Linked DNA regions of Homo sapiens: region 2 is linked to region 1. The links come from fine-mapping of genetic effects on gene expression. A gene starts in region 1. The other region holds a variant in brackets. All regions are shown on one strand. Distances are from middle to middle.

The links.
Region 2: its variant is fine-mapped to the expression of CRISP3 in whole blood (TOPMed, PIP above 0.99).

What each region holds. Positions count from the first base shown.
Region 1 is chr6:49,741,109-49,749,462 of GRCh38, reverse strand. It overlaps CRISP3 (cysteine rich secretory protein 3), which reads left to right and starts at 5,075. Exons shown (of 8, transcript NM_006061.4): 1 at 5,075-5,132. The coding sequence starts at 5,096.
Region 2 is chr6:49,680,077-49,688,430 of GRCh38, reverse strand. It overlaps a transcript of CRISP2 not described here. Among named protein-coding and RNA genes, the nearest start is that of CRISP2, 29 kb to the left of the region's middle. The variant A/G (reference allele first, on the strand shown) is at 3,531.

The sequences.
Region 1 (8,354 bases):
AGTTCAAGAGATCTATTTTACAGCGTAGCAATTACAGTTAATGGCAAATATTATATTCTTGAAAAGATGCTAGAAGAGTGGATGTTAAGTGTTCTCACCACAAAAATAAAAACTAAGAAAAGTAACGCATTTGTTAGTTATCTAGATTTAACCATTCCACAATGTATTTATACAGTAAGTCCTCATTTAACACAGTCAATACATTTTTGGAAACTGCGACTTCAAGTGAAACAACATACAGCACATCTTTTAATAACATCGTTTTTTTCAACATCATATCATTATAATGTCAATGAGAAAAAAATGCTGTTTTTATGCATCATTTTCCAGGACCTATTTGTGATGTATGAGGACTTACTCTACTACAAGACATGTTGTTCATTATAAATACATACGATTTTGTATGTCAATTTTAAAAATAAATATGTACATTGAAAAAAATCAAAGTTGGATTTGTTAACTTCATTCGGGCCCAAAGTTTGTTCATCCATTAATACCAACTCATCTCCAATTTTTGGTATATAAACATCTTTTATTTACCCATAAAGTGTATTCCTCTACTTGAATTCTTACAGCCATTACAATGGGCAATACAGATATTATCACCAATCACGTGGATTCATATGTTTTTCTACAGTTTTTTTTTTTCACATGCTAGTCTTACTGCTTCAGTAACTCAGGGACAGAATTTTTCAGTTCTCTTAGCACTCAGGTTAGTACAGTCAAAAAATGTTTTCTACACACCAACATTTTGATCCTCACAACACTAGGTATTATTTTTGTCTCTATTTTACAGGCAAGAAAACAGAATTGGATTAAAACCAAGACTAGCAAGAGTCAAGGACTTAGCAAACAAATACATCCAATTAGTGAAAGAAGCAAGACAGAGCCTTGTTTTCCCTTTTCCTTAAACAGAGACATACATAATTTTAAATATGGAAGGACTTTTTAAGTTATTTTGTCTGCTCCTTCACTTTTAAAATGAGATAAATGAATCATGTGATCATGATAAGCACCTTCACTGTTTTTTACATCATCTTTATAATATGCAACTATTGTAATAATGCAAATATTATCCCATATTATGGTGGATGCTGTTTAGGTATTGCACAGAGATCCCATCCCAGAGGCAATGCTTCTGTCCCCCAGATGTTGTGAGAATTAGCTACTGTGCCCACATCTGCCCCCTCTCAAGAGAATTGCCTTTGGCAGAGGAGAACCACCTTGTCATCTCCCCACTGTTACTAATGACTGACTGTTCATAGGTTTAAAAAGGCTGTCTGCAGCACTGCCTCTATTAATCAGGGAAGACTAGATTTTACCTGAGAACACATTCTTCTTTAGCTCTTTGTCCTCCCCTGACCTGCTTCACTCTTTTCCTTTCTGCTGCAATGTACTTCCTCAATAAATCAGAGCCAATGTAATTTGTGTCTCAGTGTATTTCTTGCAAACCTGACCTAAGATCGTGTGATCTTATATGGGTGTGTGCATGTGTGTTTGTGTGTGTGTAATAAATAATACACTGAATGGTGAAACACATAAATAATTTATAATTCTGATATTTCACTCATATAATTAGGCATTGAGTGACAAAAAGTAATCAGGATATTAACCAAAGGGACTGAGGAAGCAAGAGAAAAATGCAAATAAATTGACACACAGACTATACCTTTCTTGGAAATTAATAAGTCACTAAATTAAACCATTATATTAAAGGATAATTCAACAAAACAACAACTGATTTATAAATCTACTATTTATTAATGAGAGCAGAGTAAAATTAATTCTAATTCTAAAATGCACCTGAGTCTGTGCTCCTTAATTTATTGGTGAGGATACAGAAAATGAGAGATGCTCAATCATTTTGTTAAAGTCACCCTGACAGGCTTTGATAGAACTGCACCTTAAACACTTGAATTTCTGGTTAAACTATGATTGTTTCCTAAATACCTAAAACAAGAAAGACTTCTTATAAAGACTCCTGAATTGGCAGTTCAATCAAACAAAATGCATTCGTGGAAGACTTTTATGTACTCAGGAAATACCAGGCTTTGGAAGGGATAATAATACAAATGTTAATAATTCCATTTATTGAGTGTCACATGCCAAGCATCGCACTAATAGTTTAATTATGTATTCAGTACATTTTTATACACAAATTATGCTTTTCAGTCATTAAAACCAACGTATGATATGAAAATTCACATTTCAGAGAAGAGAAAACTGAAGCTCAGAAAGGATTTCTCAGACCTGGCAATTTCCAAAGACTGTAATCAGTAAACTATAGGTAGTTGGTAATAATGGGGAAGTAAAAGTCATAAAAAGCTGGGTCAAGAGTTCAGCTGTAAGGCAGGGATCCCAGTTGCCCTTGTAATAACTAGTCAGTTTTGGGTGGTCAGTGTAGAAATCCCAGGAAGGCAGCATTCAGATGTTGTTGTATCTAAGATGAGAGAAGGGCTGACTAGGAAGAGATGGAAGCTGTGCTTTATTTATTCATATTATAGACAATCTGGTTACACTGTACTAGTCAAAGCATAGGAATAGAAGAATAATTTTAAAGAGTAAGAAAAGGAGCATTCCTAAAACAAAATGTAATGATTAATAGCAACAGTCGCTAAGAGACTCATTGATAAGTTTCAATAGAATAGTGGGAATAGATTAAAATGTATATACAGGAACAAACTATTTGCTCTTTTAAGATGGAACTTAGATATCCAAATAAGAGCTGGAAGACACTCACTGCTAAAATTGGGAGACATGGATCATGAAGGGCCAGCAATGACCTTGGGACACGTAAATACAGAAAAGACAACCTAATCATGGGAAATGAGAGAACAAAGGTGACTAGAAACAGCCATTTTGGACACTTAAGGTCAGATTGAAGTCAGTCTGTCAGTCCAACGTGTGTATGGTATTTTGTGACCCAAAAAGACCACATATACTTATTTAGCTTAATAATAAATGTACCAATATTTGACAAGCAAAATGCCTTCTACATCATGGTGCATCTAGTGGTCATTTAGTCATAACTCAGTAAAAAGTTAGAGAAAAACTATCAAGTTTGAATAATGAGGCAAAAATATTTTTCCTTTTTATACTGTTTTGTGTCTACTTATGGTAATTTCTCACAGAACTGCCTATAGCTTAGTAAGTCAAACCATGTCCTAAAACTCAAGTGCAATCCCACAGCTTACAAATATTAGGGGTAGGTTTGTCTAGATACAGAAGAAAAGTGCATAAAGTGGGAGAGAATTAACACTGGAAATACTTACTACATGGCAGGCAGCTTACATATATTATGTATCACAATTAAATACAATTAATATTATTCCCATTTATGATAAATATGAAAATTTACAATCAGAATAATAATTTCCTAATAAAGTAGGTGCTGTGGCTCATGCCTGTAAGTCCAGAACTTTGGGAGGCCAAGACAGGAGGATTGCTTGAAGCCAGAAATTCGACACTAGCTGGGCAACATAGCAAGACTCTGTCTCTACAAAAAAATTTAAAAAATTAGCTGTGTATAGTAGTGCACACCATGGTCTCAGCTCCTTGGGAAGCTGAAATAGGAGATCCCTTGAGCCCAGAAATTCAAGGCTACAATGAGTTCTGATCTAACCACTGCACTCCAGTTTGGATGATAGAGTGAGATCCTGCTTCAAATAAAATAAAATATGATATAAAATAAAATAATAAAATATAAAAATTTCCCAATACACATTGGTATAGAAATTTAGCCCATTTCCATTAAAACAGAAATATCAAGCTTTTAACAACATTCTACACCACTAAGTAGAGAAGAGAATGGGCTGTGGATGCTTCTGGGTCTGGTCCTTCCCCACAAAATACATTTTGCCACAGAAAGAGGATTGTGTAGAAGGTTGTTCCATGGTGATTTTTTCCACATAGCTGATTTGGTTTATTGAGAGCTTCCACTTCACATGTTCATAAAGTAAACAGATTCTAGGAGTTACTTGGAGACATGGCAGCAAATGGTTAACCATTTTTTAATGGTAAAATCTGACCTGAGTTTCTGAGTTCTCAACTCTCTTATAACAGACATTTAGAAGTATCCAATTCTTGAACTCAAAATTAACTATAATTTTAAAATGTGCCTATTGTGTAGACATTGATCTGTGATTATACATTTTGTCACATTGATCAATAAAGCTAAATATAAAAATGAAAATGAACAGAAACTATTGAATTATGCACCACAAGGTGCAATCTATATGCCAATATGAGCATGCAGAAATGTCTGCGTGCTATGTATATGCTACTTGTGATTTATTAATTTATACTTCTTTATTTATATAAACTCAATATTTAAGATTATTGTATTTTAGAATCAGAGGAAATCTGAAATTGTTAGTCCACCCCACTTCATTATTGTGCTATGGAAACAAGCCTGGAATGATTGACATCTTCCATAGATGAACAGAACCAAATAATGATAATTTAGCTTGGAGATCAATATTATCTTTAATTTTATACAACCAGAAAATACAAGTAAATACAGCACATCTTTGAATATAGAAATACCAATGAGTTATGGTGTGTTTGGCCATTGAGTTCTGAAAGTCACTGTGGCCTTGTATTTACAAACATTAAAGATAAAATTATTATCCAAAACAGTAATGTCCAATAGATTATTAATAAACATTTTAGATAGCTGTAAAAAACATTGTGTTCTCTAGAGTTCATAAAAATTATGAGCTTAATTTCAATCCAACAGAAATAATTCTGAAAACTCTAATGTTGTGATGCTAATAATTGGGCTAAGAATTTTCAAACTATTGACTGGCAAAAACATGGATAAATTGTAATATATGAACTTCAAAGAATAAATGCACAATTACAAAACTTGATATAGCAATTTATTTTTAAAAGCCATTTGAGGAATCACCAAATAATTTCAAAATCATGACTAGAAAACCAGCAATGAAATTTGAGACTACTGGTATGACAAATCCTGTTTCAGGCCTTGTTGATCTAGAGTTACTTGCACAACCAGAATTTGCCAAAACAGGAAATAGGTGTTTCATATATACGGCTCTAACCTTCTCTCTCTGCACCTTCCTTCTGTCAATAGATGAAACAAATACTTCATCCTGCTCTGGAAACCACTGGTAAGTGATAACTCCTTTATTTCAAGGTGAACATTATTTATTTCAAGGTGAACAACACATTTATACCTTATCAATGATAAAGTGATATATTCGTATATTTTATCTACAATTTTCCAAAGTTTATTGATAACTTTTAATGAGAGTAATTATCTTAATATATTCATTTTAAGCTGAGAAGCTAATACATAGACAGCTTTATTATTCCAAAAGCACTTTTATCCAGTTTGAAATTTAAATAAATTTTTACCTTTCATTCTAAAGTAATATAACTAATTCCCATGTCTATGACTTGTGGAAACAATTGTACTAGAACTATTTTTAATAGAAAAATGAAAAACTATGAATATATGTGTGTGCATACTTTCACATCAGTAACTTTTACTAATATTAAAACATACAGCTATATGGGATGCCATAGCAAAAGTTTTAAATTGGTCAAAACAAAATTATAGCACTGATCTCAAGATTAAAAAGTATTTTATTAAAGACCATCAACATAAAATGCAATTTACCTCATGAAATGCACTCAGATCAAAAACAAAAAAAAAAGGCTTTTAGAAGTTTTTCAGTCAAAAGTCAGTCTACTCAGTCATGTTTATGTAGGTAATTTAAATATAATATCTATCGTGCATATTTCATCTAAGGAAGCAATTTCCACATACGGCTTTATCTTCCGTAGCATATTAGAAGTGATTCTGAAGAGTCAGATAGTAGGAGACCACAGAACTACCTAATGACAACATGAAAGGGGTTATTTACCACTAGACAGAAGATTTTAAAGTAAAATGCTTTTCTTCCCTGTGGCTAAATGCTATCCAGGAAACTCTGGGAGTATTTGCAATAGCCATAGAAGATCCGGTGTTGCCTCTTCTGCTAGTTAAAACCAAATCTAGAATGTCTGCCTGTATGACTAAGACCTCTGAAAGTGGATCAAAAGAAATTAAATTGATGACAAGTTTCAAGCCTGGGAGTTACCCTACATTGATAAGTTATGAGGTAAATTGGGGCTTCTGATTTGTAACAGGCAGGGATGAATTGGGAGGAAGAGTGTCAGAATTCTCAAGTAATGTAAATCTGATAATTGCTATGAATTTCAGTTACGTTATTTATTGAATTCAAGTAAAAGGGAGGGAATTCATCCTTGAAAAAAAAGTGCTTCTCAAGAAATGCAAGACAGCTATTCTTATTTGGATATCTTTACGAATTTCTTACTTGATGAAGTCTAGCAGTTTTGCAAACTTTGCATATTGGCATAGGCTGCTTTCTGTATCACAGATACATAATAAGATGAAAGAAAGTGATCAGAATAAAGATTAACTATTAAATTTTAAGTAAGAAAATATTGCATCAAATACTTTTCTGTGCTGTGACTAGTTTATAAATGTGTCTATACCTATAGTGCACACATTATACTCACATGTGTTAATGCTTTTGACATCTTTTCTAATCCACGTAATCCTTTAAAATATTTCTATAGTCTGTTCTTCCTCCTTTGCTTTTTAATGTTACGATGTTTGGTCTGTCTCTTAAGTTTTGTATTTTCCTCCACCAGTTGATTTATCTGTTCCTACAATAATATTAAATTTTTGTCAACAAATGTTTGAAGTCTATCTTAATAACTAATATGAAAAGATAACCCAATTAATTCTTTCTTTTTTTTCTTTTTCTTTTCTTCTTCCTTTTTTTTTTTTTTTTTTTTGAGATGGAGTCTTGCTCTGTCGCCCAGGCTGGAGTGCAGTGGCACACTCTCGGCTCGCTGCAACCTCCACCTCCTAGTTTCAAGCAATTCTCCTGCCTCAGCCTCCCCAGTAGCTGGGATTACAGACATGCACCACCATGCCCGGCTAACTTTTGTAGTTTTAGTAGAGACGAGGTTTCACCATGTTACGCAGGGTGGTCTCAAACTCCTGAGCTCAGGCAACCCACCCTCCTTGGCCTCCCAAAGTGCTAGGATTACAGGCATGAGCCACTGCGCCCAAGCAATTCTTCTTTTAAAAGTTTACTCAGTTATTCATAAGCCACTTAAAATTTGTATTGGAATTAAAGTAAACAATTATCAGGTTAGTTTAGGATTGATATCTTTATGCTAACATGTACCATTTAAAAGCATTACAAAACTCTCAATTTATTCAGAACTTCTGCTATGTTCTTTATTAAAGTTTTAAGATTTTTTCCAAAAAGGATTTTTAAATTTGTTTTGTTGTTTCCCAGATACTGTATAGTTTTTTTAACTGTTATAAGTGTTTCTTAAATCTTATATTCTAGTTGAGTGTTTCCAGTAATAGAAATGGTATTTTTGTAAGTTGATAGTGCATCTAGCAAAATTGTTAATTTTGGTGTGTTCTCCAGATAGATGATCTTATCATTTGAAAACAATAACAATTTTACGTCTTCTCTTACAAAAGTTACAAATATTTTATATATAATAATATATTTTATATTATTATATATAACATAAAATGTATACATTACATTACTTGTATATATTATATATATATATATGTATATACTTTCTTTTCTTATGGCTTTGATTAGGATCTCTCCAGTACTGTGTTAAATAAAAGTGTTAGTCATTCTTTTCTTGTTCCCAATATTAAATGAAATGCACCTAGAATTTCTCCAATAACCATTATATTGGGTATAGATTTGCAGTATATGCTTCCTACCAAAGTAATGATCTCTTCTATTTTTTCTTTAAAAAAAAAAAAAAAAAAAAAAACTACATACAGGGGTTGAATTTAATGACGTATTTTTTGTCATATTACTTTGCTTTAGTCTGTTAATGTGATGAATTTTACCAATGAATTTTCTAATTTTGAATTATTCTTGCAGTCCTCATATAATTTTACTTGGTCATGATATTTTTAATATATTTTTGAAATTGATGAGTTAATATTTTGTTAGGATTCTTGCAATTCATTTATGAAGTGGGCTTATGTATTATTTACTATTATTCTTACGTCTTTTATGAGTCAATCCCGGAATTATATCCACTCCTCAGATTACATTTCAGGAAAAAACAGCATTGGGAGGAAGTAGTCAAGCTAATTTGAACCATACAACACTAGGGAGTAAGAAGGCGTGAGTATAAGAGCACTGGAGAGTGCTATCACACATGACCTTATTATCATTGGTTCTTCACACAGGATGGTACTTTCGTTTTTTGTTTTTTTTTTTTTGGTGGTTTTTTTTTGTTTGTTTTTTTTGTTTGTTTGTTTTTTG
Region 2 (8,354 bases), 61 kb after region 1:
AGCATTTTTATTTTGTATTTTATTTGTATTTATATTCTGTATATTTCCCAGTTGACTAGCCTTAAAAAATAAAAAAGAAACATCCTTATCTTAAAGTCTTCTAGTATTAACAGAAGAAGCACCACATAACACAAAAACAAACACGCTTTTCTAAATACAAGGAAAACTGAATCCTGTTCAAGCTTTTCTCCAACTGTAAATATGCATGTCACTTAATTTTTCAGAACCATAGTTTTGTTAATTTGTTTTAAAGATGTAAAACTAAGAGTGAACAGTAAGACTTTGCTTGTCTTAGGACTCATCCATTGCAGGTTGACCTCCCAGAGATGGGACTGACTTCCTTCAAAGCTCCATGGCAACAAGCTATGGCCCAGTGATTGAGACAGTTTCTCAAAACTTGAACATCAGTCCCTCGGCATATCAAAGGAAGGGCTGGTATTTCCCCAGTTGTGAACACAGGTGTGCCTAATACTGTTGTTTATTTGTTACGCCATGTGACTTTAACCATCCGGCTTAGATCCCAGGCCTCTGCTGCATCAGGGGAGGGGTAACTGTCCCCCAAGCCTGCCCCAATCCAGAAAGCAGAGGTACCACAGTGGAACTGAAGCAAGGTTCATTTCACTTCTGATCCTCGCCCCTGAGTACATGAGAGGAGAAACCCACGTTGTGTGATCGTGAAACTTAAAGGCTCCAGGGCTCAAGGATGGAAATCTCTAACAGTCTCATGTCTGAACCTACTGTATCTCTTCACACTGACCCAAATGGTGATGAACAACAGATTAACCCTCTGACCCCTCCTCTATGAATTTTCCCCAGTAATCCCAACTCCAGCAGTTTTGGCATGGGTACTGTGTGGTCATTTGCCCTTGTTCGCATGACAAGAGTTTTGTGCGAGAACACTGAATTTCAAGATTCTAGGAATGAAAAGTTTCTGCATAGAAAATTTAGAAGCTCAATGTGATGCTTCCAGTGATGTCAAAGGACAGGAAGAGTTAGATAATATTACTCCTGGCAGAAAGTGATGTAAGAAAAAGAAATTTTTAGTAGCTTGAGAATGATTCATGCTTTATCAACGTTTATACTACATATGCTAGTTCATATTTATTTATTGAATATGCTAATACATTAATAAAACATTTCACTTAATATTTTATACATTGTATATTTGTTAAGTATAAGATTAAAATTAAAGTTTTAGGCTTATAGACAGTACTGATAATTGTATTTAAAAATTAAAGGCTTTTTTAGGCACATGTGCACAATGTGCAGGTTTGTTACATATGTATACATGTGACATGTTGGTGTGCTGCACCCATTACCTCATCATTTAGCATTAGGTATATCTCCTAACACTCTCCCTCCCCTCTCCCCCCATCCCACAACCATCCCTGGTGTGTGATGTTCCCCTCCTGTATCCATGTGTTCTCATTGTTCAATTCCCACCTATGAGTGAGAACATACGGTGTTTGGTTTTTTGTCCTTGAGATAGTTTGCTGAGAATGATGGTTTCCAGCTTCATCCATGTCCCTACAAAGGACATGAACTCATCATTTTTTATGGCTGCATAGTATTCCATGGTGTATATGTGCCACATTTTCTTAATCCAGTCTATCATTGTTGGACATTTGGATTGGTTCCAAGACTTTGCTATTGTGAATAATGCCGCAATAAGCATATGTGTGCATGTGTCTTTATAGTAGCATGATTTATAATCCTTTGGGTATATACCCAGTAATGGGATGGCTGGGTCAAATGGTATTTCTAGTTCTAGATCCCTGAGGAATCGCCACACCAACTTCTACAATGGTCGAACTAGTTTACAGTCCCACCAACAGTGTAAAAGTGTTCCTATTTCTCCACATCCACTCCAGCACCTGTTGTTTCCTGACTTTTTAATGATCGCCTTTCTAACTTGTGTGAGATGGTATCTCATTGTGGGTTTTTTATTGGTATTTTCATTTTGAAACCAGAGAGGGAAATTTGGCAATATCTAACAAAGTTGCATGTGCATTTATCCTTTACTCTACCAGTCCTTTAGAAATGATCATTAATTCGCTTCTAGCAATTTCATATTGTTGTTCCAAGAATATGAAAATACATATGTGCAAGATTATTTATTAAAATGTTATTTGTATTGGAAATAATCTATACATACACAAAAGGCAGGTTAAATAAACTACAATGCATCCACACAATTGATTATTATGCAGCTTTTAAAATGAATAATAAGGATATTTATGAGCTGATATGGACGTATCTTCAGTATATATTGCTAATTGAAAGACAGCGAAGAGCAAAACATTTTTATAGTATTCTACTTTTTGTATTAAAAAATGATAAATACAAAAAATATATGGCTTCACATTTTTGCAAAATGTTGATGCAACATAGAGTATACTAGAAAGTATTGACACTAGTATACCATGGGTGGCTGAGAATGGGGTGGGCTGGTTGGAGGATGACAATGGTGTAAGAAAAAATGGTTGGGAGGAGTGATATTTCTCTGGGTATTCCTCTTTGTATAGTTTCAGCTTGTGAATTATATTAATGTCTTACATACTCATTAAAATAAAGTATAATTAATATAATTAAGAAGTGGGGGAAAGCCCAAAAACAGGATAGAAACAAAAAACAAACTATATTTCAAATAAATAATCACAATAAAAAGTGGGGGAAAAAACAGCCGACCTAATGAGTATTATAATGCCATATTCCTTCTAGGTAAAGATAAAAACTGCAAACAAATGTTTGACTCCAGTCAATAAAGTTGTGTTTATTTTTACCATAGACACATGAGTTAGTAGTTCTGAAACTGACTATATATGTTACGACTGAACAAATGAATAAATACATTATGAATAATGAGAACCAGGTTTCTCACTATTAGAGAAGGGATTTAAACATATGAGAAAGGAGAATGTAGGAATAAACCCTGTGGTGTTCTATTGAAATTGGTGGTATCGGTATGAATTTATGGTTTTTAACATACAAAGATAAACAGAGCTGTCAGGGAAATACCAGTGAACAAAGTGAGTCCCTGCCTTCATCAGTTGATAATTTTAGAAGTAGGAAATAAGGACATAGACATCTCCAGTCACTGCAGAGACAACCTTTCCTTAGGATCATAAAAATGATTCATAAAATGATACAGTGTAACACCAAAGGGCGGAAATGCTGTCTTACGACTTTCTAAAGGAACACAGTGTGACTTTAAGTTAGAGGAAATTTCAGAAAACACCATTTCATGCTGCTCATATGAAGTGTCCATCTTTATCACTGCAGCATTGGTGGCCAGTGGCAAAGGCAGTGGGGGCTGATGAGGCAATGGCAGCCATGGGAGGCATCCGGGGAGCCCAAAACAGAAACTCATTTGTGAGACCTGGAACTATTGGCAGTGTGCTCACAGAGTTCCCAGGCATCAGAGTCCTTAGCATCCCAGAGCTGTGAAAGAGGCTGGAGTAGAGAGTAACAAAAGGGGATATGCTACAGAGGAGATGAAAGTTCTGTTAGTATGCATGCAAAAAGTCTCT[A/G]TGAGCCAAAGGATACCCAGTACTAATTGACTGAAAGTTTAGACTTTCTGTCCCTTTCAATAGTAGGTAGAGGGGAAAACTATATAAGTGTGTGTATGTATGTGGCACACAAATCCAAACACATCCACATATAAAAACAATGAGAATGATCTTAAACCCCATGGTATTGAGAAATATGATTGTATAAGATACCCCTAATTTACATGTTAAAATTTTAATGCCATTGGATATTGATTTATTTCAAATTAAGTAGATTTCTTTTTTAAGTTAAGTATGTAAGATATTCAAGAGTAAGAGGTACTAATGATACTCAATACATTTTAATTTTCTTCTCTGCTTCCCCTTAGCACTGCAGAAGTTAATTAGAAAACATACTGTATCCCAGGGGCCATGCTGAATTCCTTATATAGTCGGTCCTCCATATCTGTGAGTTCTACGTCCATGGATTCAACTAACCACTGATCATCAAAAATAGTAGGAAAAAAGTACTATACAGATGGTTGCATATGTATTGAACATGCACAGACTTTTTCTTGTCATTATTCCCTAAAAAATACAATATAACAATTGTTTGTATAGGATTTAAATTGTATCTGGTATTATAAGCAATCTAGAGATGTTTTAAAGTATGTGGGAGGGTGTGTGTAGGTCATAACAAATGCTACACCATTTTATATAAAGGACTTGAGCTTCAGTGGATTTTCGTATCTTCAAAGGGTCTTAGAATAAATCCCCCATTGCTACTGAGGGACGATTATATTCATTTTTGCACTTTATCCTCCCAATATTCCTTTCTCTTTATTTTACGGATGAGGAAACAAGGATAGGAAGATTAAGTACTTTGCCCAGATACAATCAGCCAAGGAACATCAAAGCATGTACTCAGTACAGATATAGTAGGACTCAAAGTCTTATACTTTTAAGCACTACCACAATTCTGCTTCCTGATGAAAACTAAAATTAGCTCATAGCTTGAATGAAAAATATATTCAAACTGGACATTTAATTTGAAAATAAATATTTCCTTTATATAAAGCTCTTAGGTAGATTACTTGTTCTGTATTCATGAAAATGTGTTCACTTTTGACAATGTGACATTTAAAACCTTTAGTTCAATGGTAGTCAGGCTTAGAATATGTCTTTATAAATTACATAGTGACTTAGTCCTATCAACTTCTATATATATATATATATATATATATATATTTTTTTTTTTTTTTTTTTTTTTTTTTTTTTTGAAATGGAGTCTCACTCTGCTGCCCAGGCTGGAGTGCAGTGGCATGATCTCGGCTCACTGCAACCTCCATCCCGCCAGTTCAAGTGATTCTCCTGCCTCAGCCTCCCAAGTAGTTGGGATTACAGGCGCCTGCCACCGTGCCCGGCTAATTTTTGTATTTTTAGTAGAGGCGAGGTTTCACCATCTTGGTCTTGAACTGCTGACCTCGTGATCTGCCTGCCTCAGCCTCCCAAAGTGCTGGGATTACAGGCATGAGCCACTGCGCCCGGCTGTTTCTATTATATTAAAAACCCATAATTATAAAAATGGTGACAAGAAATGGATTAAACCTTGAAGGGTCCTGGTTGGGTGAACATGAAGGAGCCCTTTAGAGTGCTATTTACATAGGTATACACATGTTTAGAAATTAAATGAGCTATGCAATTAAGATTTTGTGTGCTGTATTGTATACACTGCATGTCTCTATTTATTTATTTATTTATTTATTTATTTATTTATTTATTTTGAGATGGAGTTTCACTCATGTCGCCCAGGCTGGAGTGCAATGGCGTGATCTCAGCTCTCTACAACCTCTGCCTTCCGGGTTCAAGCAATTCTCCTGCCTTAGCCTCCAGATTAGCTGGGATTACAGGCACATGCCACCATGCCCAGCTAATTTTTGTTTTTTAATAGAGATGGGGTTTCGCCATGTTGGCCAGGCTGGTTCTGAACTCTTGACCTCAGGTGATCCCCCCTTTTCGGCCTCACAAAGTGCTGAGATTACAGGTGTGAGCCACTGTGCCTGGTAACCTCAACTTGAAACAGGAAGAAAAGAAGGGAGGAAGGGAGGAAGGGATGGAGGGAAGGAGGGAAAGGAGGAAGAGAAGGAGAGAGGGCAGGAATGAGGGAAGGGAGGGAGGAAGGAAGGAAAAAGAAGGAAGAAAAAAGAAAGAAAAAGAAAGAGAAAAAGAAAGAGAAAAAAGAAAAAGAAAGAGAAAGAGACAGAAAGAGAGAGAAGAAAGAAAGAAAAGAAAGAAAGAAGAAAGAAAGAAAGAAAGAAAGAAAGAAAGAAAGAAAGAAAGAAAGAAAGAAAGAAAAAGAAAGAAAGAAAAAGAAAGAAAGAGAAAGATGGAGGGAAGGAGGGAGGTGGGAAGGAAGGAGAAGGAGGAAGAGGAGGAACAGGAGGAATAGGAGGAGGAGGAGGGAGGGAGGGAGGGATGGGGAAGAAGGAAGGAAGAAAGGGAAAGAGAGAAAGAAAATAAATAGATAACTAGAGTATGTTATATGGTTGCTAGAACTAAATCAGGTGTTCAGTTTGGACATGTTGAAAGTGTAGGCATAGAGAAGACAGTTGAATATATAAGGAGGGATTTAGTCTAAAATGGAGATAAAGATTTGAAAATCATCTTTGTATAGACGGCACCTAAAGCCACAATACCACCTGAGATTCCTGGGAAGTAAGTGAAACAATATGCTAAATCCCAGAATTTAAAAAAGTTTGTGAAAATAAGAGCAAAGGTCCACCAAAAGTGTCAAAAACAAGAAGATGAGGAAAGGATGAAATAGTATAGTATAGATGCCAGAGAGACAGATGATTATTTAACTTTTATTTTTTATTACTTTATTTCACGGAGATGGATCTTTAAACTCTACAGCCTGGCACAATTATCTGAAGGAGAAAAAGAATGATCTAACCTGTGAGGACATAGTAAATAATTATTTAAATGCTTGGGGGATATTAAAAAACATTTCAAGGTGATCATGAGATCACTGTCAGTTAACAAGGAATAATGACAAGGAGGAAAGCAACATATTGATTAACATATGACAAATGGAAAGGGCAAAAAAAAATCTTGAAGCTGGGCATGGTGGTGTGCACTTGGAATCCAAGCTACTTAGGAGGCTGAGATAGGAGGATTGCTTGAACTCAGTAGTTTGAGGCCAGCCTGGGAAAAAAATAAAAGAAAACTTTGGCATTAATCTATGAGAAATTCCTCCAATTTAAAGTGATTTCATCATTTTTAAACCATGATATTATATGTAAAACAGTAAAATATAATTTTTAAATTTGCTACACTAAATTTGTTTCTTTTTGATAGTTTATAAATATAAATCAAAATTGATTCTGTTTTATAAATCTATATGTTATTGCCCACATTTAATCTAAAGTTTCAGCAGAATTCATTAAGTACTTTGTTCAAATGTGGGTCTATATACTAATATTATTATGGATATCTTAATCTAGTTGAAAAAATGCTTAATCTAGTTGAAAAATTACTACAGGGCTTAGTAACCAAAACAGCATGATACTGGTAAGTACAAAAACAGATAAACAGACCAGTGGAACAGAATAGAGAACCCAGAATTAAGACAGCACACCTACAACTATCTGATCTCTGAGAAATCTGACAAAAACAAGCAATGGGGAAAGGACTCCCTATTCAATAAATGGTGCTGGGGTAACTGACTAACCACATGTAGAAGATTAAAACTGGACCCCTTCATTAGACCATATATAAAAATTAACTCAAGATGGATTAAACACTTAAATGTAAAACCCAAAACTATAAAAACTCTGGAAGACAACTTAGGAAATACCATTTAGGGCATAGGCATGGGCAAAGATTTCATAATGAAGATGCCAAAAGCAATTGCAACAAAAACATAAATTAACAAATGGGATCTGATTAAACTAAAGAGTTTCTGTACAGCATAAGAAATTATCAACAATTAAACAGACAACCTACATAATGGGTGACAATTTTTGCAAACTATGCATCTGACAAAGGTCTAATATCTAGCATCTACAGGAAACTTAAATTTACAAGAAAAAATAAAACCTCATTAAAAAGTGGGAAAAGGATATGAACAGACACTTTTCAAAAGAAGACATTCATGCAACCAACAATCATACCAAAAAAGTTCAACATCACGGATCATTAGAGAAATGCAAATCAAAACCACAATGAGAGACCGTCTCACACCAGTCAGAATAGCTGTTATTAAAAAGTCAAAAAATAACAGATGTTGGCAAGGTTGTGGAGAAAAGGAATGCTTATACACTGTTGGTGAGAGTGTAAATTAGTTCAGCCATTGTAGATGACAGTGTGGCAATTCCTCAAAGACCTAAAGTCATAAATACCATTCAACTCAGCAATCCCATTACTGGGTATATACCCAAAGGAATATGAGTTGTTCTATCATAAAGACACGTGCACATATATGTTAATTGCAGCACTATTCACAATAGCAAAGACATGGAATCAACCTAAATGCCCATCAATGATAGACTGGAAAAAAGAAAATGTGGTACATATACACCATAGAATATTATGCAGCCATAAAAAAGAATGAGATCATGTCCTATGCAGGAACATGGATAGAGCTGGAGGCCATTATCATTAGGAAACTAACACAGAAACAGAAAACCAAACACCACATATTCTCACTTATAAGTGGGAGCTAAATGATGAGAACTCATGGACACATACAGGGGAACAACACACACTGGAACTTATCAGAGGGTGGAGGATGCAGGAGGGAGAGGATCAGGAAAAATAACTGATGGATACTAGGCCTAATACCTGGGTGATGAAATAATCTGTACA